Homo sapiens: one gene and its partners. The protein of the gene in region 3 purifies or fractionates together with the protein of the main gene of each other region. This does not show direct contact. Each region holds a gene or a part of one and is shown on either strand. Other genes may lie near its edges.

The links.
Region 1: the proteins of RHOBTB2 (region 3) and MACROH2A1 purify together in Homo sapiens (affinity purification with mass spectrometry, with the first as the bait; one large-scale study listed by BioGRID). This does not show direct contact.
Region 2: the proteins of RHOBTB2 (region 3) and ARIH1 purify together in Homo sapiens (affinity purification with mass spectrometry; 2 studies listed by BioGRID and IntAct, with this or other methods). This does not show direct contact.
Region 4: the proteins of RHOBTB2 (region 3) and USP9X purify together in Homo sapiens (affinity purification with mass spectrometry, with the first as the bait; one large-scale study listed by BioGRID). This does not show direct contact.
Region 5: the proteins of RHOBTB2 (region 3) and DBN1 purify together in Homo sapiens (affinity purification with mass spectrometry, with the first as the bait; one large-scale study listed by BioGRID). This does not show direct contact.
Region 6: the proteins of RHOBTB2 (region 3) and CDC40 purify together in Homo sapiens (affinity purification with mass spectrometry, with the first as the bait; one large-scale study listed by BioGRID). This does not show direct contact.
Region 7: the proteins of RHOBTB2 (region 3) and CEP131 purify together in Homo sapiens (affinity purification with mass spectrometry, with the first as the bait; one large-scale study listed by BioGRID). This does not show direct contact.

The regions. Positions count from the first base shown.
Region 1 is NC_000005.10:135,389,232-135,392,731, forward strand, and holds part of MACROH2A1 (core histone macro-H2A.1), read right to left. Parts: intron 1-3,500. UniProt on the Homo sapiens protein: Variant histone H2A which replaces conventional H2A in a subset of nucleosomes where it represses transcription. Nucleosomes wrap and compact DNA into chromatin, limiting DNA accessibility to the cellular machineries which require DNA as a template.
Region 2 is NC_000015.10:72,564,830-72,568,329, reverse strand, and holds part of ARIH1 (E3 ubiquitin-protein ligase ARIH1), read right to left. Parts: intron 1,768-3,500; coding exon 1,725-1,767; intron 1,225-1,724; coding exon 1,153-1,224; intron 1-1,152. UniProt on the Homo sapiens protein: E3 ubiquitin-protein ligase, which catalyzes ubiquitination of target proteins together with ubiquitin-conjugating enzyme E2 UBE2L3.
Region 3 is NC_000008.11:23,013,048-23,016,547, reverse strand, and holds part of RHOBTB2 (rho-related BTB domain-containing protein 2), read right to left. Parts: intron 1,859-3,500; coding exon 1,770-1,858; intron 911-1,769; coding exon 805-910; intron 1-804. UniProt on the Homo sapiens protein: Regulator of cell proliferation and apoptosis. It likely functions as a substrate-adapter that recruits key substrates, e.g. MSI2, to CUL3-based ubiquitin ligase complexes for degradation. Required for MSI2 ubiquitination and degradation.
Region 4 is NC_000023.11:41,217,945-41,221,444, reverse strand, and holds part of USP9X (ubiquitin carboxyl-terminal hydrolase 9X), read right to left. Parts: intron 3,074-3,500; coding exon 2,848-3,073; intron 2,344-2,847; coding exon 2,214-2,343; intron 1-2,213.
Region 5 is NC_000005.10:177,460,135-177,463,634, forward strand, and holds part of DBN1 (drebrin), read right to left. Parts: intron 2,293-3,500; exon of another isoform or gene 2,098-2,292; intron 570-2,097; coding exon 510-569; intron 422-509; coding exon 298-421; intron 1-297. UniProt on the Homo sapiens protein: Actin cytoskeleton-organizing protein that plays a role in the formation of cell projections. Required for actin polymerization at immunological synapses (IS) and for the recruitment of the chemokine receptor CXCR4 to IS.
Region 6 is NC_000006.12:110,214,927-110,218,426, reverse strand, and holds part of CDC40 (pre-mRNA-processing factor 17), read right to left. Parts: intron 3,142-3,500; coding exon 3,096-3,141; intron 726-3,095; coding exon 624-725; intron 1-623. UniProt on the Homo sapiens protein: Required for pre-mRNA splicing as component of the activated spliceosome. Plays an important role in embryonic brain development; this function does not require proline isomerization.
Region 7 is NC_000017.11:81,216,466-81,219,965, forward strand, and holds part of CEP131 (centrosomal protein of 131 kDa), read right to left. Parts: coding exon 3,415-3,500; intron 1-3,414. UniProt on the Homo sapiens protein: Component of centriolar satellites contributing to the building of a complex and dynamic network required to regulate cilia/flagellum formation.

The DNA of each region.
Region 1 (3,500 bases), on a different chromosome or scaffold from region 3:
CCACTGTCTGTAGCTGCAGGGCCCTCCGGGTCCAGGTGATGCACTCCGCTGGAGCAGTTTGATCCCTGAAAAGAAAGGCTTGGCTTTGCACAATTTATACCATGACATCAATTTTACTTAAGTGCCTTGCCATTATGCCACATGATGAAAAAGGAAATGGGATTTCTTGGCCACATTCTATACACTTGTTTAATAATTGCATTTTCATACACTTGAGACTGGGGCTGATAAACTTACCAAAGGCTTCATAAAAGAAAAACAGCTATGACACCCTCCCCTAAAAAGATGATGTAAAGGCAGATACCTAGATTCTCTGATGAAAGCAGTGTCTCTATTTTAGATTCTTTATCTGTGAGAGGCAAGAACAGCTTACAGGAGTCAGTACAGTGTATAGTCAGGTTGCAGTAAGAGGCCCTCTGAGCACTTCTAGTCCACCAGATGGGCCAATCTTTAGAGAAGAGAGAGAGAGGTGTTTTTTCCTTCCTTGCTCCCAATCCCCATCCAGTCACCCAGTCCAGAGGAAAACCCTCCTCTACACCTCTTGTGGGGCTCTTTCTCTCCACCTCCAGTGATGGGATCCTGGTCATCACTATTTTAATCAAGTGGTCACAAATGTCTCCTGAAAAGGTCTCCCTACCAGAGCCCCCTCTCCTCTAATCCACCCTCTACCCCATGGGTGGGGCAATCTGGGTACACACCCACCTGAACATGCCCCGGCCCTGGCCTGAAAGCTTTCTGTGGCTGCCACAATTCTCATGATAGAACCAGGACTCTTGGCCTGCCATGTAATGCCCTAGAAATCTAGGCCTGGCACACATGTCCAGCTTTGCCTTGGGCCACCTGTGGTCTAAACTAGCAAACAGGGAGCCACACAAGGTTCCCCCCAAATACCCTTCCACTTCTTTTCTCCCTGCCTGGGCAGTAGCTGTTCCCTTTGGCTGGGACCTCCATTATCTCTCACACTTGCCTCTGCCTTCTGCCAGCCCTCCCAAATGTTGAGATCTGGCTGTTTCATCCTCAGGGCCCCATGTGCTGCACACCACAGCATTGATGCACGTGTGCCCATTCTCCCATCAGACTGCAGGTGGGTGGAGGGGTGCCCCTAACTGTATTCCTACTGTAGCACCATCCAAGGTCTCGAATGTTTACTTGGAGCATCCTGTTCATTTATGCATTCACTTCAGGTATTATGCTGGGCAGATGTGGTCCCTGTGGAACTGGTGGGGAAAAAGACAATAAATAACCCCCTAGTCATTTAAAAGATAAACGTAATGCATGCTTCAAAGGGCCAGTGCAGGGTGCTGGGAGAGGGGATATGAGGGGCCTTGGCCTGTTCTGGGGCCCCCTAAAGTCTTCCCTATGAACATGTTTGCTCACTGAACCAACTGGGCAGGTCTCCCATGTACTGATAAACTGACGTCACACTCCATGGTGTTTGGGGCCTTCCAGCACCAGCAGTCAATGCTGTGACCACTGGAGGCCACAGGGATAGGAGTCCCTGTTACTCTGATGCTCAACCTATACTAGGGACATTGTCAGGACATGCCACGGTCCACACTTAACACCTCTCTAATCCCAGGTGCATCTCAAATCATCTGGGATGAGCCACAGAGATGGCTGTGAGGACAGAAAACAGAATTCTGGGCACTCTGGGGCTACTGTGTAGACAGGCCCAACAGAGGTAAGATGGCAGAGGCCCTGGCTCTGGAGTGATGTTAGAAGAGTAAAGGCCTCTGTCATGAGCGCCCTGTCAAGGAGCACCCAGTCTTAACTGCTCACTGAGGGCTAGAGAGACCCAGAAGGGTCTGGGTTTTTCCAAAACAATTAGTTGGATCCCTTCCTTGCTGCAATGAACTCCATTTTAAAACATTCCTTGCAAAAAGGTGCCTGTGCTCACTCTGAGCAGGAAATGATATGTGTATATGTATGTGTGCCTGTGTTTTCAGGCAAGGCTGTCATTGGGTTTCCTAGCAGTCTTTTGCTTTACTACAAATGTGTTTCACAGACCAACAACCTGATGCCTTTGGACTGAGCTTTTAAATCGGAATGTCTCCCCCTTTCAGCAGGGGAGGCCTGTGGTCAGTGATGATTAACAGCAGCTCAGCCCTTTTCCTACTAGAGCACAGACTTCAGCTTTGTTTCCCAGCTGACCTGCTGGGCATGTCTGGGGCTGCCTATGTGGGAACTGGACAGTGGTCTCCTCCAGAAAGGATCCGTTAGCACTCAGAGACCTGGCAGGTCCTAGACACGCTGACTCCTTAAAAGTGGTGCTCCTTGTCTTTCCCTCCTCTGACTCTAGCTGAGTCTTTACATCAACATGCCAGTGACTCCCAGGTCTCTATGCCAGTGCAACACCTGGCCGCTGAGCCTCAGAGCTCTGTTCTGACTGCTGATGGCAAGGGCCCACTTACAAGTCCCATGGGTGCCTTGAACTCCTCTGGGTCTCTCAGCCTCATCAGTGGCAATGTCATGCACCAAACTAGCCAAACAGCAGTGAACCTGGCCCAGACTTCTCTGTCCACCCCACAGCACCCAAGCATTAGCCAAGCTCTGCTGAACCGCCTGCAGAACCTCTCAGGCCTCTTCTCATCACCCTCCCTGCGTTGGTTCAGCCTCTTTACTTCTGACCTATTCTCAACCGCACCAGTCTTCATCCATGGACACCAGAAGCAGCTCTGCCTACTCTGATGATTCCCTGTCAGCCTGAGCTTCTGAGCTAGCCACAAACAGCATACTTCAGCTACTTTTGGTGGCACTGCTTCCTGTCACCCCAGCCCTGGCTCACATGCCTCAGGCCACCCCTGACTTCTTGAGCCTGTCACACTGTGTTAAGGATGTCTCTGAACACGCAGTTCTCCTGCCTGGAATGCCCTTTGTCCTCTTGTCAACTTGCTGAACTGACACTCACAGCCTCCCTCTGCCATGGAGGCTTTGTGGACATGACCACAGCCTGGAATTGCTCACTGCTCCATGTTCCCATAGTATATATATCCCAGCACATGCCTCTCCAACTTGACTGAACTGCAAGCCATTCGATGTGAAGCACTGTAGTCAACTCATCCCAAGAAAGGTCTGAAATATCACAGCTCCTCCAGTGCCACCCTGCTGGCAGAAGAACATCTTCACTTCTCATTCTGAGTCAGGCTCCTGTCCAATAAAGCGGCCTCAAGTCTGTCTCCCCACCAATGGGGTTGTCTTGCAGAGATTCTGTACTTTATCCCTCCCCATGTTCTTCCTGCACTTCTAACTATAGTTCCCCAAGCTGCAGCCACAGCTATGAAAGAATTCTGACTAAGCCATGAAGCCTTATGACATCCAGCAATGTGTGGTGGTTTTCAAAACACCCTTTTGAAAACCAACTCATAGTTGTGCAGTCTCCAGATAAACCCATGAATGTGCCAGGTCCATCCTGCTCTTCAGAGGTTTATGCAGGTGTGGGTAGCTCCAGTCAGGCACCCATGACAAGGGGGAGAGTGACTGTGAGGCCAATGGCAATTAAG
Region 2 (3,500 bases), on a different chromosome or scaffold from region 3:
GGACTTAAGGAACATTTCTTGTGGGAAAATCTTCAATTTTCAAAAAAAGAATGCTTGGCTAAGAATTTTTTTTTAATAACAAAACAAGTAACCACTTTCTGACATTACAGTATATTTATAGTAAGGTTTTCTTTGATTGACGTGAGTTATGCTTATCGTGATGGTTTTGGAGGGAACAAAAAATATTAATTTCTACCATATATTCCTTAAAGACTTGGGCATTTGTTTTATGTGGCAAGATTCACTGTTTCACTACTTTCTGGGAGACAGAAATATAAATTCATGTTTTATATATAAGTATGTAAGATGTATATTTAAACACACACAGACAACCTGCGTCGGCCTTCATTGTTTACACACTTCTTAATCTCATTGTCCTGTGATGACTGAGGCAACAGTTCAAAGATAGCTTTATATACTATGGGTCAAACAACTCAGCATTCTTTAAAGCATCATCTTTACATGTACAAAATAATACTAAAAATGAATAGCCCATGAACCAACCTACCATTCATTACCCAAGTCACTCACTATGGGGATAGGATAGGACTGAATTACATAAAGGATGGATAATACGACTTTGTATTAAAAGACTAGCTGGGTACACGGTTGGCATTCAAATGCTTGCTCATTAGATTAGTGATCGAGGAGAAGGGTACTCAAGATTTAAACACTTCTAAGACATTTGTCTGGGGTTAAGAAAGTGAATTTTGAAATTGAATTTTGAAACTAGTATCAAGAGCAATGTACTTCAAAACAAAAAATTAGAAACAAAAATGTAAATTAGCCTAACAGAACCAAGCTAGGCGGAGTAAACTCCAATGCATTTGTATACTAAATGGCAGCCAAGCACAAATCCCACACTTGAAAAATTATCAGCTTTTTCCTCTACAGAACACTAATTTTTTTTCCAGTAGAAGAAACCTAAGGCAGAGAACTGTGGATGCTGTACTACAGTACTCAATACTCTAAAATAAACTCAAAGAGAAAAAGGAAATAACAGGCAAACATTCTGGGAAAAAAAAAAAAAGACTCAATGGAGAAAAAGATGAAACAAAGCCTGTAAGTAGGTCACCTCATTGCTTTTGCTAATGCCAAAGTACCAATCCTTATCATTTTTATTACCAAGAGTTACTGAAGGAAAACACCAACCTTTGTGTTGGCTGCAATCCAATTGGAGGTTTCACTGTCATCATCACACTTTTTAATCCATTTCTTTAACCACTGTTTGAAAATAACAACGGTTAGGATACAACAAAAGACTTTTAAAAATAGCAAATTACTTTAGCACTTAACTATAGTCAAGCTTAAATGTAAAAGCCAATGAATAAGATTATCACTAGGCTCACATCCTCTTAAGCCAGGGAAATCCCATAGCTACAATGTCCAGTATATATAAAATCAACCAAAGCAGGATTTTCTTTGGCAGAAGCTGAGTGGGGAACCTAGAGCTTGAAGAGAAGCCCAACTGCAAGGTGTGTATTCCCCTAATTACAAAGCCTGACAAAGAGGTGCCTTAGCCATGGTTATCCTAATAACAATCAGGAGCTGACTTGGCTTATCCTAAGGAATTACCTCTGAATACATGTAATGATCATCTGAAATTAAAAGGATAAAAAAAAATCTATCAATAGATAGATAACAAAATCATCAGCTATGATTTTTAGTCACTAAGTCTTAGAAGTGTGCCATTATTTAAAAATTGAAATGTCAGACAAACTCACCTTACATTTAACAGGATCATGCCAATTTTCTCCACAGTTAAAGCTGTTAAGTGACACAAAGAGTTAATAGAATTAAGGCCTACCTACTGTAAGCAAGTAAATAAGCCAATCATTTCATGCCTTATAGTTCCACAGTATTGTCACTAGTTTCTAGTGACTGGCAAATACAAGGAGAGAACCCATGTCTGCTTTACAGTTAATTACCTAGAATTTAGTAGTAGAACTAGCACATAGTGGGTACTCAATATGTGTGAAGAATGACTATAAGCATGAAGACACGCTTTGATGACAATTTCATAATAATTGTTGCTAAGGTGCCTCAGACTATATTGAGAAGTTTCAACCCATGCTTCATCAGTGCATTTTTAATCTTTTACTTAACACCCTAAATGAAGAATAAAAGGCTGACTTTGTAGGTTACTTATATAATTTAGTACTAATACACAGTAAACAATATATGGGAAGCAAATAGGTCACATCTTTGCATTATTTAAACAAATGAACCTCCGCCCTGTAGAGGGAAATGGTACTGGGCAAGGTATAAAACAAAAAGACTAAATACTCACTAAACATGTGTTAATCAGTAATTCACTTTTGTTTTCTAAGTTCATGACATATACACTTGTAAAAGAAGTATAATTAACAAACACAAATGCTTAAGAAAAAAATAATAAAATGACAGATTAATTAGCTAATTAAGTAATTTACGAATGGCAAAAAGTCCTTTGCTAAAGACAGAAACAAACTACTATTGATTTAAATCAGGTTAAGATAAATGGTTATTTCTGAAAAGAAAGATGGGGAATGGGAAGGAGCAGGGAACCAAGGAGCTTCAAATATATGTGTCATGTTTTATCTCTTAATGAAGAAAAACAAAATACTAATTTTGATTTAACTGGATTGTAGCTATATAGGTATTCACTGCTGTATTCTCTATACTTTTATGTTTGAAATGTGTCACGCTAAAAATACATTGGAAAGTAGGTATTATCCACCTTTTCTCTAAAATAACAATACATAATTAATCTTTATCGAAACAGTATGTATTTTACACATACTTAATCTCTGTGAGCTTACCTGCTCTTTTTGGAAATATTTATTATTAATGATGTGTTAAGTGTAATTCTATAGATGTTTGGAGGAAAAAAAGAAAGGTATGGAATACCAATAAAATATTTCCCCCTCCAAACCACCCCGCAGCAAAAAAGAAAATCTGGCTGGCCATGGTGCTTCTCACCTGTAATCCCAGCACTTAGGGAGGGCCGAGGCAGGTGGATTACTTGAGGCCAGGAGTTCAAGACCAGCCTGGCCAACAAGGTGAAATGCTGTCTCTATTAAAAATAAATACATAAATAAATAAACAAATAAATAAATAAATAAAAATTAGCCAGGCGTGGTGGCACACGCCTGTAATCCCAGCTACTCAAGAGGCACAAGAATCACTTGAACCTGAGAAGCAAAGGTTACAGTGCGAGATCGTGCCACTGCACTCCAGCCTGGGTGATGGAGTGAGACCCTCTCTCAAAACAAAACAAAACAAAAAATCTATTTGCTGGGTCTAGAGCCCCTTGACTTGATTGGCTTCTTACTCCTCAAGACCCTCAAAGGAACAGAAAATCATCTTAACTTCTAGCAGGATATAAATGTTTGTGTCCCCCTAAAATGTGTATGTTAAAACTTAATAACCAATGTGACAGTATTAGGATGTGGAGCCTTTAGGAGGTGAATGGAATTGGCATCCTTTTTAAAAAAAAAAGGGGCCCAGAGAGCTGCCTT
Region 3 (3,500 bases):
CCCAGCTACCCGGGAGGCTGAGGCATGAGAATCACTTGAACCCAGGAGGTGGAGGTTGCAGTGAGCCGAGATTGTGCCACTGTACTCCAGCCTGGGCAACAGAGCAAGACTGTCTCAAAAAAATAAATAAATAAATAATTTTTTTTTAAAAGTGTTGTAGTAGTGAAAAGGAGAGATCGGGGTGGAGACTTGGCAGCATGAGGCAAAAACACGGCAGCAGGGAGGAGGGTCACGGCAGACTGGAGGGAGCCCAGAGAGGACCCCATGGAAAGAGTGGCAGACCCTTCAGGGAGGCCAGGGACACCTCTCCCTGGAGCCTGTGCAGTTTCTGTTGAGTTCTAGGGCCTAAGAAATTAATCAAGAAGAGACAGGAGGCCTCAGAGGATGCCCAGACCTGGGTGGTCCAAGCTGTGGCCTGTACCCATTCCTGGGTTGTACCATCAATTTAGTGGGCCATGAGCAGCATTAGAAAGATGTATATATTTTCCTATATGTGTCCTGGGTCACAAGATGAAATGTATTTCTTACGGTATTCTGTCCAGAAAAGTCTGAAATCTACCAACTTTAGTCCAGTATCCTCTTCATACCTCTGAGAATGAGAAGCCCAGAGAGGCAGGGTGAGTTGCCCTCCAGGCCAGCACTTTTCCTGGGGCCCCTTGGCTTGGCTGGAGGCTCCTTTGCAGGCTGCTCCCAGCCCCAAGGTCAAGGATTACTGGCAGCCTCGGGGTCCCTGGGATTACATGGGAGCTGTGCACCCCTAAGGGGAGGGCAGCAGGTACTGCCAGGACTGGCCCCGATGCTCACCTGGGGACATGGCCTTCATGTCTCGGGGGAACTTGCGGCACACGTTGTTGTAGTTGGTGCAGATGTGGTGGAGACACCAGTCGGCCAGCTGGTACGCACAGTGGAACTGGGGACAGAAGGGAAGAACGTCTGTACTGAAATCCCCAGGGGAGAGGGTCTGCATAGACACCTCCAGCTGCCTTCAGAGCTGAAGCTCTGGTGCAGGGCACGCAGAGGCCCTGCAGTTCTAGAGAGCCTGCGCCAGAGGCAAGGCCACACAAAACTGAGGATGATGATGCTGCCTCAGGCTCCTTGGCACCACCGCCAGCACCACCATCATCTCACCTCTGTTCTGCCCACTCCTGGCATCCTCGCTGCAGACACCAGAGCCCTATGTAGTGGCTTCATACTGCATCTGCCCTCCTCAGATCTCAACCTACCTGACTTCTCTCTCCTCCACATCTGGGATCAAGGCAGCCTGCACGGAGGCACTGACAATGAGCTAAGGGAGCTGCCTTCCCAGGGGTGTCTGCAAGCCCTGCCTGAGCCGTGCTTCCACTCCACACACTAATCTTTGGTGGCTGAATTTCTGGCACTGTGAAGGCCACTGTGGGAGATTTGGCTTGTTTGTTTGGGATTAAGGGAGTAGGCGGTTAATTTCAGATGGAAAGTCCTCAGTGCCCCTTAAATGACCTCAGGCAGGCAGCAACCATGTGTAAGCCTGAGCCTGGGGTTCCCTCCCCAGCCCTACTGCTGCCTAAAGCCTCATCCCTTCCCCACTTGGTCAGCTCCCCTCCGGGTACACCAGGGAGTTCCCCAGCTGCTTCCTGGCATGGAGGAGGAGATGGGCTACGCGCAGTCAAAGAGCCCAGTCCGATGACAGGTTCTCCCGCATAGACCATCTTCCACCCCTTCCCATTCGCAGCCAATGGGCAGGCAGAGTGTAGAACTGAGACTGTTGTAGATTCCCTCCCCTGCCATGATACCTGAGCCAGTTCCAGGAACACAAGGACGTCCCCATCGATGTCCACCATCATCTGGGTCGCTTCCATCAGCCCGGTCACTGTGTACTGCTCTGTAACACACACGGCCACCAATCAGCTGAAGAAGCACATGACCTGTGCTCACCCTGCCCCACCACATCCCCCAGCTCACTTCAGGGTGAGGAAAACCAGGGCCCGGGCAGGTCCGGACAGGCCAGGAAAGGCCCCAGGCTATGACGTCTGCTGCCACCAGGGGGACCCCAGGGATGACAGCAAGAGCTCAACGGGGTAGGGTAGGAAGAGAAGGAGGACATTGGAATTACCTAAGAGGATTTTTCAAACTACGTATGTCCCGTGACATAATCTGATACAGGTAGGGTCAAAGTTCCCAACAGAACCAGCCTCTGATACAAAAGGGAGAGTGTGTGAAACCTCATGTCTGCTGATCACAGAAAAAGGCTGAGAACTGTGAGTTAGAACTAGGAGTTAAGTCTAGTTGTTTGTTTTAATTTAAATTTTGTAAAAAATTGTGTACTAACCTTGTATTTTAAGTTAAAACACTTATATTGAAGAAGTAAACACCCTTGGTTCTGAATTTTAATTAGAAGTATCAGTATAAACTCATGAGGTATCTTATCTTTAAAAAGATCAATATATTTCCCAGCTCTGCCCCCAGAAAAGACCTAGAAACAACAGTCATCCCAGTACAATGAGCATTCCTAGTGCACACAAATACCAGTTCCACTTCCAACACAAGAAACTAGGACTTCCTGGAGAAATGGCTGATTCCAGGTCTGGGGCACAGAACCTTCAAGAGGAACCTAGAACATCTCATCATTCCAGATAGAGAGGAAGCTCGTAAGACTCTGGAGTCAAGCCAAAGAGTGCAGGATTTGAGCTTCAGCAAGGATAACTGCAATTAACTGAAACCAATCAAGAATGTTCAAATCTAAGGGGCCATAATAATACTTCAAAAACAAACAACTGGCCGGGCACGGTGGCTCACGCCTATACTCCCAGCACTTTGGGAGGCCAAGGCGGGTGGATCACTTGAGGCCAGGAGTTCAAGACCAGCCTGGCCAACATGGTGAAACCCTGTCTCTACTAAAAATACAAAAATTAGCCGGGTGTGTTGGTACGTGCCTGTAATCCCAGCTACTCGGGCGACTGAGGCATGAGAATCTCCTGAACCTGGGAGGTGAAAGTTTCAGTGAGCCGAGATCACATCACTATACTCCAGCCCAGGTGACAGTAAGACTCCATCTCCAAAAATAAAAAATAAAAGTAAAAAATAATGCAAAAAACCATGCTGTAGTGTTTAATGACACACACTTGGATGATAAAACTATAAAGGAAAGTAAGGCAGTATGCCCATAAAAAGTGCCATAAAAAAAGGAATACTAGGCAAAGGGCTTCCTCTTAGGGAGGAGAGAGGGGTCTGTGAGAGAGGAGGGAGAGGTGGAGGACTTCTGGTGGCCAGCAAGGTTCTAGTTCCTGACATAGGTCATGAGTAGAAAGGCATTTTCTTTATAATAATTCATTAAACTAGGCCAGGCTTGGTGGCCCACGCCTGTAATCACAGCACTTTGGGAAGCCGAGATGGGAGGATCACTTGAGGCTGGAGTTTAAGACCAGTCCAGGCAACACAGTGAGACCTCATCTCTGCAAAAAATTTAAAAATTAGGCCGGGTGTGGTGGCTCACGCCTGTAATCCCAGCACTTTGGGAGGCCAAG
Region 4 (3,500 bases), on a different chromosome or scaffold from region 3:
CACTTTGCATTTTCCCTATTATAGCTATTAACATATTTTATGGCAACTACATTATTTGCTTCTATATCCCATTAGACAATCTTATTTATTGCCATATTCCCAAAAACATAATAAAAACAGGTCCACAACCTCTTATCTGAAATCCTAAGATTCCAAAAGCTATTTTAATTTTTAATTTTTTTTAAGATGGAGTCTCGCTTTGTCTCCCAGGCTGGAGTGCAGTGGTGTGATCTCAGCTCACTGCAACCTCCGCCTTCTGGGTTCAAGCGATTCTTCTGCCTCAGCCTCCTGAGTAGCTGGGATTACACGCATGTGCCACCACGCCCGGCTAATTTTTGTATATTTAGTAGAGACGGGGTTTCACCATGTTGGTCAGGCTGGTCTTGAACTCCTGACCTTGTGATCTGCCTGCCTCGGCCTCCCAAAGTGCTGGGATTACAGACGTGAGCCACCGCGCCTGGCCCAAAAGCTATTATTATAACAAGTTTTTTTTTTTTTTTTGAGACGGAGTCTTGCCCTGTTGCCCAGGCTGGAGTGCAGTGGCGCGATCTTGGCTCATTGCAACCTCTGCCTCCCAGATTCAAGCCTCAGCCTCCCGAATAGCTGGGACTACAGATGCCCGCCACCACGCCCTGCTAATTTTTGTATTTTTAAGTAGAGATGGGGTTTCGCCATGTTTGCCAGGCTGGTCTTGAACTCCATACCTCAGGTGATCCGCCTGCCTCGGCCTCCCAAAGTGCTGGGATTACAGGCATGAGCCACCTCGCCCAGCCCAACAAAGTTTTTCATTAAGTTGCTGTCAAAATGTGGTTGGTGGGATAACCTAGCCCAAACTGACTAAAGGCTACTTATAGTCTTTATTTCTCCCTTCAGTATAAATATTCATATTTTACTGTAGAAATATTAATGTGTTCAATTGTAAGTTGTTGTCTCAGACCCTGCTATAGAGATGTTGGTATATGCACTGCCTTGCTTTTCTTAAATCCAAACAATTCTCAATCCCAATGCATATCTGATCTTAAGGACTTCATATTAAGGTTTACAGGCCCTACAGTATTTGTTTTCAGCAGGAAAATTTTACAAGTAGGTTACATTATGGAACAATGATGTGTGCTTTGTGAACAGGCAATATCTAAAAGAGTTGAACAGAATAGGATTCTTCTGAATGTCTAAATTTGGCATTTTTAAGTTTGAAATACAGATTCCACTTATGCTTGTCTGTGTAATAAATATTCTCTTTCTCATCTACAAATACCCAAATATCTGCAATTACGGAAAAGACAAGGGAAAAGAAGACAAACTAAATAGACAAATGAAAAGTACAATCTCCCTTATGTTAAAAGGGCCATGGATCCAATGGTGATTAAGTAAGATCACAGAAAAAAAACCTGAAACGACAGGTACGCCTGGATATAGAACTTCATTTTGGATATATGACTTTTTGGTTTGTTTGCTTTTTGGAGACAGGGTCTCATTCTGTTGCCCAGGCTGGAGTGCAGTGGTGCAATCACGGGTCACTGCAGCCTCAACCTCCTTAGCTCAAGTGATTCTCCCACCTCAGCCTCCCAAGTAGCTAGGACTACAGGCATATGCCACTACATCCAGCTAATTTTAAAATTTTATTTTGTAGAGATAGGGTCTCCCTATGGTGCCTAGGTTAGTCTCCTGGGCTCAAGCAATCCTCTTGCCTTGGCCTCCCAAAGTGCTGGGAGTACAGGCATAAGCCATTGTGCCCGGCCCCTAAATTAATATTTTAAGCGAGTATTTATATTATCCATAATTGTAGTTTACTTAAACAAAAACTTATGTACAGACCAAGTCTGCTATCTAAATTTGGTGAGTATCACAACCATTTGGGGACCCCTTTGAAAACATGGATTCCCTGACATTAGCTTTGGGGATGCTGATTCAATCAGTGTGAGAAGAGGCCTAGAAACCAGTATTTTCCAAAAGCAGCCAGATTTGGCACCACTGCATTAGGAGATTAAAAAAAAAAAAAAATCAAAACACAGATTCTGACCTGTGTCTACCACAAAGACACATGCATAAACAAAGTAAAAGGTGAAAGTGCCATGTTCAGATAAAATTCACAACAGGTTTTATGGGAAATTGTTTCTACTTCAGATCAGATTATATTTCATCACTTGACCTAAATGACTTCACAATTTAATATGATACATCAAAACAGAATTCTGAAAAACTTAAATTCTTACCTAAATTGGCATACATTACAAACAGGTTGAAATACTGCTGTAAATGACGCCCATGCTCTGAAACTTCCCTTCTCAAGAGATTTAGTACTGCTCTTAGTAAGTGATCACTCAAGCTTAAGTTGTCATAAGCCTGTAAAGGATAAAACATTACCTGTTTTACAGCAACAAGGTATATGTATACTTCTACTTGCATAAAAAGGACATGCACATATGCTGATACAGGCATACATTTATGGAAGGACTGATCACACAAACTAAACTATTTTGCTTCTTGGGAAAGGGAATGAAGATCAGAGGCGGATTTCATTATAATTTTTTACACTTGTAATTTTTTAAAAAAATCTAAGACTATTTAAAAAACCTTCAAAATAGGAAAAAATCTACTTAACAGTAAACTTATAATTAAGCTACTGCATGTAACCGAACAGAGAAAATTCTCTTACATTTTTAAAGAGCCAATAATTACTATTCATTGCCATGCAGTAATATTAAATGGAACTCACTGACATCATATTGTGTGTTTCTGTTAGGTAAACATATCAAGTGGATGCACATATGCTTGTGACTTCGACTTCCAGGAAACACAATTTATTTGTAAACATCTCATCATTTAGAAAGAAAGCTGTGCAATTACCTGACTAGAAGGTCCAGGAGAGGCAAAAGGTGAAGGACATGGCCCATCTTGCAAGGAAAAATGTGCAATAAAGACTATAAGTTTTGCAAACGCACCCCTCACTTCTGCACTAGGGCACTCCAGAAGGTATTCGGAGAAGCGATTTGAAACATTAAAAAGGACGTTATGAGCAAACCAAAAACGTACATTCTTGCTGTGACGAAGGAGAATACACAATGCATCATACCTAAAATAAAACAAAAAAACCTATGACTATTAAGTCAATAACTTGTTCTCTATAGTAAAAGGATGAGTCTCATTGAACCAAAAAAAAAAGACAAAGATCTTCCTCTACTGCTGGAGAGAACCAGCAAAGGTTGCTTCTAATATTAAAACAATAGATAAATACTATGACTTGGTCTATTCTCTCAGAGTTACCAAACAGGTGAAAGCTTGTCCTCTAAAAATCCATTAACAAACTCTTCCTAGATTCAATGACAAAATACCACCCCCTTATCTTGACATATTCCTGAAATGAGTAAGTAAAAATTATTAAATCAATGTATCATAATGGCCTCTATACTTTCACAATTAGAAACTTAAGAAAACCATTTTAATTTTTTACCCTTTTAATCGGTGTCAGAATTCAATCTAGGTAAGCTAAAACCTAATAA
Region 5 (3,500 bases), on a different chromosome or scaffold from region 3:
CTAATTCACCCCAGCCGAGCTGCTCCCCGTGGCCAGCGCTGTGCCTCAGCCCATGCCAGAGCTGCCCCACAGGCCCTAGCACTCCCCACTGTTCAGCCACAAGCGACTTCACCACCATCCCTGGCCCTTCTTGGGGTCCTGCCACCTGGGAAGTGGTGGGCGGATGCACGCTGGATGAAGGGTCTCGCCTTCTCCAAGGGTTGCTTGGGCAAGGCCTCCCTTCTGAGAGAGTCCCAGAGAGGCTCAGGGCCGCAACCTGAGGAGTGGGGCCGGACGGGGGGTGGGGCCTAGGACTACCTGGTCGATGGTTGAAGGGCGAGGGTACATCACAGCTGCCCGCAGAGGCCGATGCGACTCTTTCCTGCTGCTTGAAGAACTCCCTTGGGTTGTCAGGCCGCTGGGCAATAATAGCTGCTGCCTCCTGAGGGCACGAGGAAAAGGTTGGGGCTGGGCCAGGCAAGCTGAGATAGCCCTGTCTGCCTCACCTGGCTGGTGCCCCCAGCTCTCACCTCCACCTCCGACTCTGACTTCTTCATGTGGGTCTCTTCCTCCTCATCCCGATGGTCACCCTAGAAACCAAAGGGACAGTGTCTGGTGCACCTACCCCCCACAGGGGCTTTTGGCCTTCTTTTTTACTGTATTTTATTTATTGATTTTGTTTTTAAGACAGGTTCTCGCCCTACCACCCAGGCTGGGGAGCAGTGGTACAATCACGGCTCACTGCAGCCTCTGCCTCCTGGGCTCAAGCAATCCTCCCACCTCAGCCTCCCGAGTAGCTGGGACTACAGGTGTGCACCACCATGCCCGGCTAATTTTAATTTTTTGGTAGAGATGGGGTCTCCCTATGTTGCCCAGGCTGGTCTCAAACTTCTGGGCTGAAGGGATCCTCCTGCCTTGGCCTCCCAAAGTGTTGGGATGGATTACAGTCATGAGCCACCAGTGCCCGGCCTTCTGGCCTTCTTTTTTTTTTTTTTTTTTTTTTGAGACGGAGTCTCGCTCTGTCGCCCAGGCTGGAGTGCAGTGGCGGGATCTCGGCTCACTGCAAGCTCCGCCTCCCGGGTTCACGCCATTCTCCTGCCTCAGCCTCCCAAGTAGCTGGGACTACAGGCGCCCGCCACTACGCCCGGCTAATTTTTTGTATTTTTAGTAGAGACAGGGTTTCACCGTTTTAGCCGGGATGGTCTCGATCTCCTGACCTCGTGATCCGCCCGCCTCGGCCTCCCAAAGTGCTGGGATTACAGGCGTGAGCCACCGCGCCCGGCCCCTTCTGGCCTTCTTACAGCCCCCATGCTTCTTTCGCAATCTGGCAGGAAGGGTTTCAGAGGTGGTACCTCTGCCCCGTCAAACCCTGTCACACAGCCCCTCTCTTCCCTCAGGGCCCTCAGCCACCTCATCTCTGACCTGCCAGGCCTCTGGGCACCAGGCTCACTCACTCACTTGCTCATCCCCATATCTAAGCAGGTGCCTAGGGCCCTCCAGAAGTGCTCCTTGTTTTGCAGATAACTTCTTGGACCTCCTACCCTAGTGCCGGGGCCACCATGCTCCCAATGTTGCTGCCTGGACCGTGGCATCATGGTCCAGCCTTCCTCACTGCTACCTGCCTTATTTGCTCTCCATAGGCCCTGAAAGGACCTTTCCAAAATGCGGATCAGACCATGATTTTCCTGAGCTTAAAATCCCTCAGGGGTTCCCATGAGCCACAGCAAGCACTGGCTAAATATGACCCACAGATGGCTTTTGTTTTGCTGGTATGATATTTTTAAACCATGTTCATTAGTTACCACCACTTAAAAACCAGGAACTTTCATACTGAGATGAGGGTCCCAGTTTCTCTTGAGGTGACAGAGCCCTGGCGACATCACCTGCAAGCCCGGAGCAGCCATCACCGGGGCCTCGCCGCAGCCCCCTTAAGACAGGCGTGTGCCACCCGCTCACCCCCGGCCCCACCATCGCCTACTGGCTTCACCTGCCCACTGCACACGTTGTTTTGGGTGGGCAGCGCCCGCACTTGGCCTACGTCCCCCACCCCTGCCTGACCTAGCCGTCACCTCTCCAACACCACCCCCTGCCGGCCCCCACCCCAAGGCTCCCACATACTGTGAGATGTAGACATCAAGTCCTCAGCACGACGCAGTCAGTTCCCAGAACAGGCACACCCGTTCCCACCTCCAAGCCTCAGCATGGGAGACTGGCCTCCCTCCCAAATGCCTGCTCCCCACCCGGGGGCCAGGCCCTCTGGTTTCCAGCTGCAGCGTGGCCACTGCTTCCTGGGGAAGGACCTCTGAACAAGAGGCTTGTTCAGGTCATTTCCTCCTCTGGGTCCCCACAGGGTGCTCCTGGCTTCCACCACGATGACACCACATCCTAAGTTCCTGTTTCCGGAGGCACCTCCCCCCTCCGCTGTGAGCAACGCAGGATGAGGACCGGGGTCTCCGGGTGGGTGGCCAGCACAAGGCGGGCGCATGTTTGCTCAACTGCACTCACACACCAAAGGCTTCTTAGTCGGTGTCCCCTGCTGCTCAGGTGGCAGCTTGGGCAGGAGGGGCTGCTAAGGTGGTGAAGTCCCAGGGCTGCTCTGTTTTTGAGCCTATAATCTAAAATTTTAGCTTATGTCAGGAGCACTGGGAGAAGGGCCCTTCGTAGTATCCCACCTCAGGAGGGCTATCACCTCAGTGATAACTTTGTGACCCCCAGAATGAAGTCTAAACTCCTCCTCTGCCCTTGCTCTCCTTTCCCAATCAAATCTCCCCCACTCCTCAGCCCACGGGGTTCCAGTCAGCCTAGGCTCTTCACCTTCCCATGAGCCTGTGTCCCACCAGCCTTTGCTGCTCTGCCCACTGCCTGCTGTAATCTCAGTTGGTTCCTCTGCCTTGTTCAAAGAAAGGACCAGAGGCAACTACCACAAAGGCTTTTTTTTTTTTAATCTGAGACAGAGTCTTTCACTCAGGCTGGAGTGCAGTGGCGAGATCTCGGCTCACTGCAAGCTCCGCCTCCCGGGTTCACGCCATTCTCCTGCCTCAGCCTCCCGAGTAGCTGGGACTACAGGCGCCCGCCACCACGCTCGGCTAATTTCTTGTATTTTTTAGTAGAGACGGGGTTTCACCATGTTAGCCAGGATGGTCTCGATCTCCTGACCTCATGATCCGCCTGCCTTGGCCTCCCAAAGTGCTGGGATTACAGGCATGAGCCACTGAGCCCAGCCCTCCACAAAGGCTTTAATAAACTACCAACCATGTGAACACTGAAACAAGTAAGGCCCAGAGGGAGGAGAGAGATCAACGCACTAACCACATGGGTCAAAGCCACTGCTGTGCCTAAAGCATTTTCAGATACACGGGAGCTCCCCTGCAGGCCAGGCAAAAAGGGAACTCAGATATGGAACACAATTCGTAACAGGGGAGAGAAAGCAACAGCTCCTTAAGCCAAGAGAAAGCATTTCACAGTGCTAAATCCCAAAGTCTCTCGCATATTCCCTTCCTTAGAGGACCTGAAATTGAAAG
Region 6 (3,500 bases), on a different chromosome or scaffold from region 3:
AGACACTGAATATCAGTGCTTAGCAATTATGCCTGTTAAATGATGTTTAATAAACATTAACTATTATCATTACCCTTCAGATGCAGTAAGGGTAATGACAGTAAGACAATAAGATAGTAAGATAATTTTTATAATTACATAAAATTATACTAGCCACAACATATTAATGTGAATCAATTAATAAACAGCAATTAGTATGGCTGTGAATATATAAAACCAACTGGCCTGTGAAAGTTGAGACCTACATTTTAATCAATTTGCGCAAATACATTTAATTTTGTTCATTAGACATTTATTGCACTTCTGTTATGTGCAATGCACAGTGCTAGGTGATGTAGGGGAACAAAAAAATCAATTAGATGGCCTATACAAGATTTCCACTTTGCTTATTTGTCAGTACGTTTGCTTTATAAAATCTATCTGGTGGAAACAAGTTTCACAGTGAAAGAGCTACTCATGCTCAGTTTCGACTTACAAATGTATTTTGTGATATTTGCTGACAGTGAATGGTATGAGAATCAGCAGTTAGAGAAGGTGCCATTTTGCCACAAAAGACTACTCACACCATTTCAAATATAAATAACTTGTAAGATGAATGTGTATTAGCATAAGTGAACTCTTACCTGTCTCAGTGTCCCAGAGCTTAAGATACCTGTCATAGGCTGCACTGAGGAACTGTGTTCCTGCAGTATTGAAGCAGATATCCCTAACAGCCTTACTGTGACCTAAAGGTGGAGTCAACAGAAACAGCAATGAGGTGAAGTATCATATATCTTCTTCTCTTAAAACATTAACACCATAAAGACAAACAGCACTAAGCAGTGGTTCTCAGCTGTGAGTCAAGATCACTGGAATGCCACCGCCTGATTTACTGACTTAGAATATGTTATGTGTGGGCTTCAGAATGTGGGCGTTTTTTTCCCCTTGAAGAAGCTCCTCAGGTGATTCTGATGCATAACATCTTGGTTAAGAACCAAGAGGAAAAGGTTTAACTTTTCTTTTAAGTCTGCCATAGCAATTACTTAATATGCAGTACATACAAGTGATGACTAGCTAGCCAAGAATTTATGGAAATGTAAAAGACCAATTATTGCCAGTGAAAGAAATGGCTGCTGGAATTTTGGAGGTTCACTCTCAGAATGTCCACCAGGCTGCAAGTGAAAACAAAGTGCCCCAAACCTAAAGTTCAGGAAACTGTAGCCCTTGTTCAATAATTGTATATTTCTGTGATCACATTACCAAATTTCATAGAAACTGATTCAGAATGTAGGAGACTTTCTGAAAACTATATTAGCTTGCATGGTTTTTTATTTTTATTTTGAGATAGGGTCTTGCTCTGTTGCCCAGCCTGAAGTGCAGTGGCTGGATCTCAGCTCACTGTAAGCTCAACCTTCCTGGCTCAAGCGATCCACCCACCTCAGCTTTTCGAGTAGCTGGGATTACAGGTGCACACCACAACGCCTGGCTAATTTCTGTATTTTCTGTAGAGACAGGGTTTTGCCATGTTGCCCAGGCTACCTTCTTTTGCTTTAAGATGATATTTTGATAATACACTAATTTTAAGGTGCTGATTATTATACTTTACTTAAAAATGAATATTGCCAGTTCACTCAACTCTTTTAAAAGTTACAGGGAAAAATAAAATGTGGCTAAACAAAAGCAAAAATGTTCCTATTTTTGCCACCCCACCATGACCAAGACACGTACAATTGTGCAAAATGAGCATGGCACAAATTGTTAACCACATGCAGCAGCTCTAAACCATCACCTCCAGTGAACTCCCATCAGGAGGTACGTGTCATGGTAATTAGGCATCCTTTTCTACAGCTGGAGTCCCAGTCAGAGCTTCTATCATCTCCTTCAGGAGGAAAATTTCAGTTTTCCACAGAAAAATGGTCTGCCAGTAGAGGGGAGACAGATGCGGACCAAATCCACTCTATCTGATGGAGACATTTTGTTCCCCTGTACACAGCTGAGAGCCTTCCACAAGTCTTCCTTTAGGCTGCGGTGACATCTTAGGCAGTATTAATTTGTGCAGGGAGGCCTTAAAATCATAAAGCACTGCTGAACAGACTCCCACTTTAATCTAAAAACAGAGCCACTACGAGTCACACCGTTTCAACGTGGTACAGTTAAATTTGGAATGAGTAACTAGCCTTCACATGAAATCTGACAAAGACAATAAACCTTTCTCTACCAAAAATCTGGTTTGTCACAAAGCTGTCCTCCCTTTGGCCTTCTTTCTTTCTTCAAGGAGTTCTCTCAATCTCATCCTTTTTTTATGCTTTAGCTGTCAATTCCCAGTCTCTCTTCAAAGCTCGACCTCTGGCTATCTAATTGCTTACTGAACATTTTTACCTCAATATCCCAAAGGCAGCTCAAATTTGGTGTATCTAAAACCTTACCATCATCTTATGTTCCTTCTTGGTGAATGGCACCATCGTTCATCCAGCCTCATGGGAGTCACTCTAGATTCCTGTCTCACTGTGATCATTCACATGCCGTTACTAAATCTCACTGACTTTAACTCTAATACGTAGTTCCTTTCTTTTCTCTCTCTGCTGCTTTGGTTCAGGCGCTCATCATCTCTAAACCAGACCTATGAAATAACTGTGTAATTAATTTCCCTTCCTCCAGGCTTGCCCTACCAAATCATCCTGCATATTGCCATTTGATCTTTGTAAACTTCAAATCATGTTGCTTTCCGGCAAGAGCTCTTTAATGGTTCCCCAATGCCCTCACAACAGAGGCTAAACTCTTTATTAATGGCACAGGAGGTCTTCCATACTCTGGTCCCTCTCTTGCTACTTTTCTCCGCTTTTGTCTCTCACCATCCCCCATACTCTGACAATCCTGAAATGTACGTGGATCCCCTCAGCAGCACGCTGTCTCACACCATTTTTGTTTTGCATCCGCTGCTCTTGCTTCCTAGTTCTCTTTCTTTGTCTAACTGGGGACACTGACTCCTCCTTCCAGATTCAGCTGAAATCTATGAAGAGTTTACTTCCTATCGGTGTAGTAAAGTTATTGTCAATGATGTTATCTTACTTTAAAAATTCTTCCCAGATTTATGTTGGAGAGAAAAGAAGCATTACCAATAAATGTTCTCAGACAGCGCCGTTCTCCATAAACCTCCCATAGCTGGGGGAGAAAAAAAACAACACATGGAAATATTACATTTAATAAAGGTCCTTCAATTAATAACAACAGCCCTATGCTGGTTATGTGTGTGCACATCTGTGTGTGTAAACGCACAGCTTCAATCATTAAATATTAAACACTGAATATCATTAAATATAGCTTGGTGCTGCCAGTTTGTGTTATATTATTTGGAACACACACACACAGAGTCACACACGCTCAAAACTAAAGAGTTTTAAAGATATTTACATCAAAAAAGAGACTTAACTATAGATGGAGTTAATTCAGGTAAGTTTTCATTTTCATATTGTTCTTTTCTATTTCATACATTTTCTAGGATGAAAAGTTTCTACTTTTGT
Region 7 (3,500 bases), on a different chromosome or scaffold from region 3:
GGCTGCAGTAAGCTGTGGTTTCTCCACTGCACTCCAGCCTGGGCAACAGAGCAAGACCCCGTCTTAAAAAGAAAAAGAAAAGAGAATGCAGGAGCCCCACGCAGCTGACGGATACGGCACTTGTTCCAACACATCTCCAGCATCACTGATGCCTGTGTGCCCAGAGTAAGTGTGGGTGCAGGAGAAACAGAACAGTGGCCGCCTAGGAGAGGCCCGCAAGGTCGGGCAGGACAGGCTCACTGCTCAATGAGCCCCCTTTTCCCAAATGGTGGGTGTGAATGGCCTATTCAAAACACATGGTAGGAATTTTGAAATCATCCCCCAAAATGGCACCAGTCATTGCATCAGGGCCATGGGATTATGGGTGCCCTTCATCCTGTCTCCATTTTCCTGGGGTCAGTTTCGCAGCCTCCAAGAGGAAGATAAGGGATGTCAGGGGAGGGATGAAGGGGCTGCCACTCACTGACGGACACCACGGTGGAAAGGCACCACTCATGCTCAGATGGTAAATCAAGTCATGGACTAAAAACCCTAAACTCCACCTGCAAGAAGGAGGCAACATCGCCCAGGGAGGGGCAGGTGGCCCCCATGGCCATGACACATATGCACAGTGATGTCTGTTCCCCAGTGAGCTTGTGCTCTTGGGATTTAAAGACCTCTTTTCTTTAAGGGGAAGGGAACCAGAGTGAATAATGATCTAGGGGGCTAGAGGATCAGGTGGGCACACAGCTGGGGCAAGGAAGAGGGACCCTCTACAGTCTGGCACCGACATCTCTTGAGCCAGAAGACCAGCAGGAACTGCAGTTACATCCTGGATGGGGAATCCCGGGACAGCAGGCCGTGGACGCAGGAAGATCTTTAGAGACAAGGGGTAGAGTGGAAACCCCAGGCCAATGGCCACCGAGAAGGTCTCCGAGCCAGGGGACAGCACCCCACCCCACCCACAAACACCAGGAGGAAGAGAATCACGTGCCGCCTTGTACAGGTGTGAAGCCATGCCTGGCCAAAACAAATGCTCTCCAGGAATCCCGATGAGACTGAGTGGTAGCAGGGCAGGTGGCCGAGAGGATGGGGACCGGGCACAACAGAAACCCCTGAGGTCACGTCACACACTGGCGGGGGTTCCTCTTCCACCAGCAGTTCCCGAGCTCCCACCATGGGCACAACAGAAGGCAGACAGGCATGCAGGGGTGGGGCCGTCTCGGATCGAGCGAGGGCCTCAAAGAATTGAAGTGAACAGCTGGAACATTCCATGAACGAGGGGACTGTTAGCAGTCGCCACTCAACACTGCGGGAGCGGGCAATGGTACCAGCCGAGGAAAGGAGGGATCGATATGAGTAGCGCTCGCTGTGGCTTTGAACCTCTACTCAGCAACAGAACATTTCCCAGCAGAAAGGCTGGGAGTGTGGTTAGGTGCCTGGGTCGGCCGCGGATAGAGCCTGGCCATGCCGCCGAAAGACCATCTACTAGAAAGCCCGGAAACTTTTACAACAGTCTCCACACAACAAGAGAGCTGCAATTTCTTTCTTTCTCCTTCTCCCTCTCCCTCTCCCTCCCCCTCCCCCTCCCTCTTTCTTTCTTTCTTTCTTTTTTTGAGACAGAGTCTTGCTCTTTCGCCCAGGCTGGAGTACAGTGGCATGATCTCGGCTCACTGCAGCCTCCTCCGCCCGGGTTCAAGCAACTCTCCTGTCTCAGCCTCCTGAGTAGCTGGGATTAAGGGTGCGCGCCACCACGCCCGGCTAATTTTTGCATTTTCAGTAGAGGCAGGGTTTCACTATGTTGGCCAGGCTGGTATTGAACTCCTGACCTCAGGTGATCCACCCGCCTCAACCTCCCAAAGTGCTGGGATCACGGGCGTGAGCCACCTCGCCCAGCCCAGATCTGCGATTTCGAGTGCGTCTTCCCCGCCCCATGTGCCATGAACCTAGGGCTTTAGAAACAGCGGGAGGGGCCAAGGCAGGTGGGCGAGGGGGTCAGTGACGCAGGAGCAGGGCTGCGGACAGGAGAGGCAGCAGGCTCAGAGACGGCTCTAGCCCAAGCTGGTTACCCCTCTGCTAAAACAGTGCAGCATATTTTTATTTTCACAGCTTACGTCTGTAAATGCCTAGAGGCGTACCACATCTTTAGACAACCTGCCGGCCACAATGACACATCAGGACATCCCGGGTCCCCGCCCTGCTGGCCCAGGCTTTGGGAACCTGCTTGGTCCAAGGGTCCGCTACTGGCCCGGCTGCCCTTACCCCGGAACTCGGCTAGCCGTCTGGCGGGCCACACCCTGCCCACCTGGGGGTGCTTCTAGGGCAGACACAGGAATAACTTTTTCAAGGAGAAGGGGGAGGTCCAAGCCTTTTATTCACAGTGGAACCCTGGCCTGGGCCTGCCAGGGGTTCCTGTGGGAAGCCTCAACTGCCCTCCAGACCCCTTCTCTCTGCCCTGCTATGTTGCCTGGCACGGACCTCAGGCAGGGAGCCCCAGACCGGCTGCCGCATGGAAGCCAAGGCCCCCAGGCCCTTGCTATTCGGAAGCTCAGGCCAGACTCTGGTCAGGCTCTGCCCCAACCCCCACAGAGCGGCTCGATTCCTCCCTTGCCCCAAAGACTGGGCCTGGCAGACACCAACTCAGGGTGCAGCAGGCCCGGCCTGCCTTTCACAGCCCCCATCTGGGAACCACCCACCCTCCTCCCTACTCCCAGAGGTGGGCAGGAAAGGCAGCTCTCACCCCGAAGCTCCCACGGCTGTCCTGCTGCCCACACACCCACACACCCGTCTAGGTTTCTCCAAGGCCACCAGGAGCTCATCACCCCTCCCCACAGGTCAACCCCATTTCTTTCTTTTTTTTTTTTTTTTGAGATGGCATCTCACTCTGTCGCCAGGCTGGAGTGCAACGGCACGATCTCGGCTCACCGCAACCTCTGCCTCCTGGGTTCGAGCAAATCTCCTGCCTCAGCCTCCCGAGTAGCTAGGATTACAGGCATGCACCACCATGCCCGGCTAATTTTTTTTTGTATCTTTAGTAGAGACGGAGTTTCACCATGTTGGTCAGGCTGGTCTTGAACTGCTGACCTCAGATGACCCGCCTGCCTCGGCCTCCCAAAGTGCTGAGATTACAGGCGTGAGCCACCGAGCCCAGCCAACCCCATTTCCTGAGGATTCAAACAAATCCAAAGGGCGGTGGCACAGGAGGCCTGGGGCTGTTGCTGAAAGAATCCAAGCTCTGGCTTGACTTTCTAGTGATTCAGCACCCACGCCTGTAAGACTCAAGTCCTACCTGCCTCCTGGAACAGCCACGAGGATCCAGCATGTCCAGATGTGAGGCACTTGTTCACCTGTGGAGCTGGACCCAGGGGTCAGATGCCAACTGAACAACAGCCCTCCAGGAGGCAGGGGCCCGGACTCCTAGGCCACAGTACTCACCAGCACCTTCCTCTTCTGCTCGCTGCCTGTGACCACGGAGACAGAGCGGACGATGGGCTTGGTGGTGGCGGCACTGCCAGGACGCC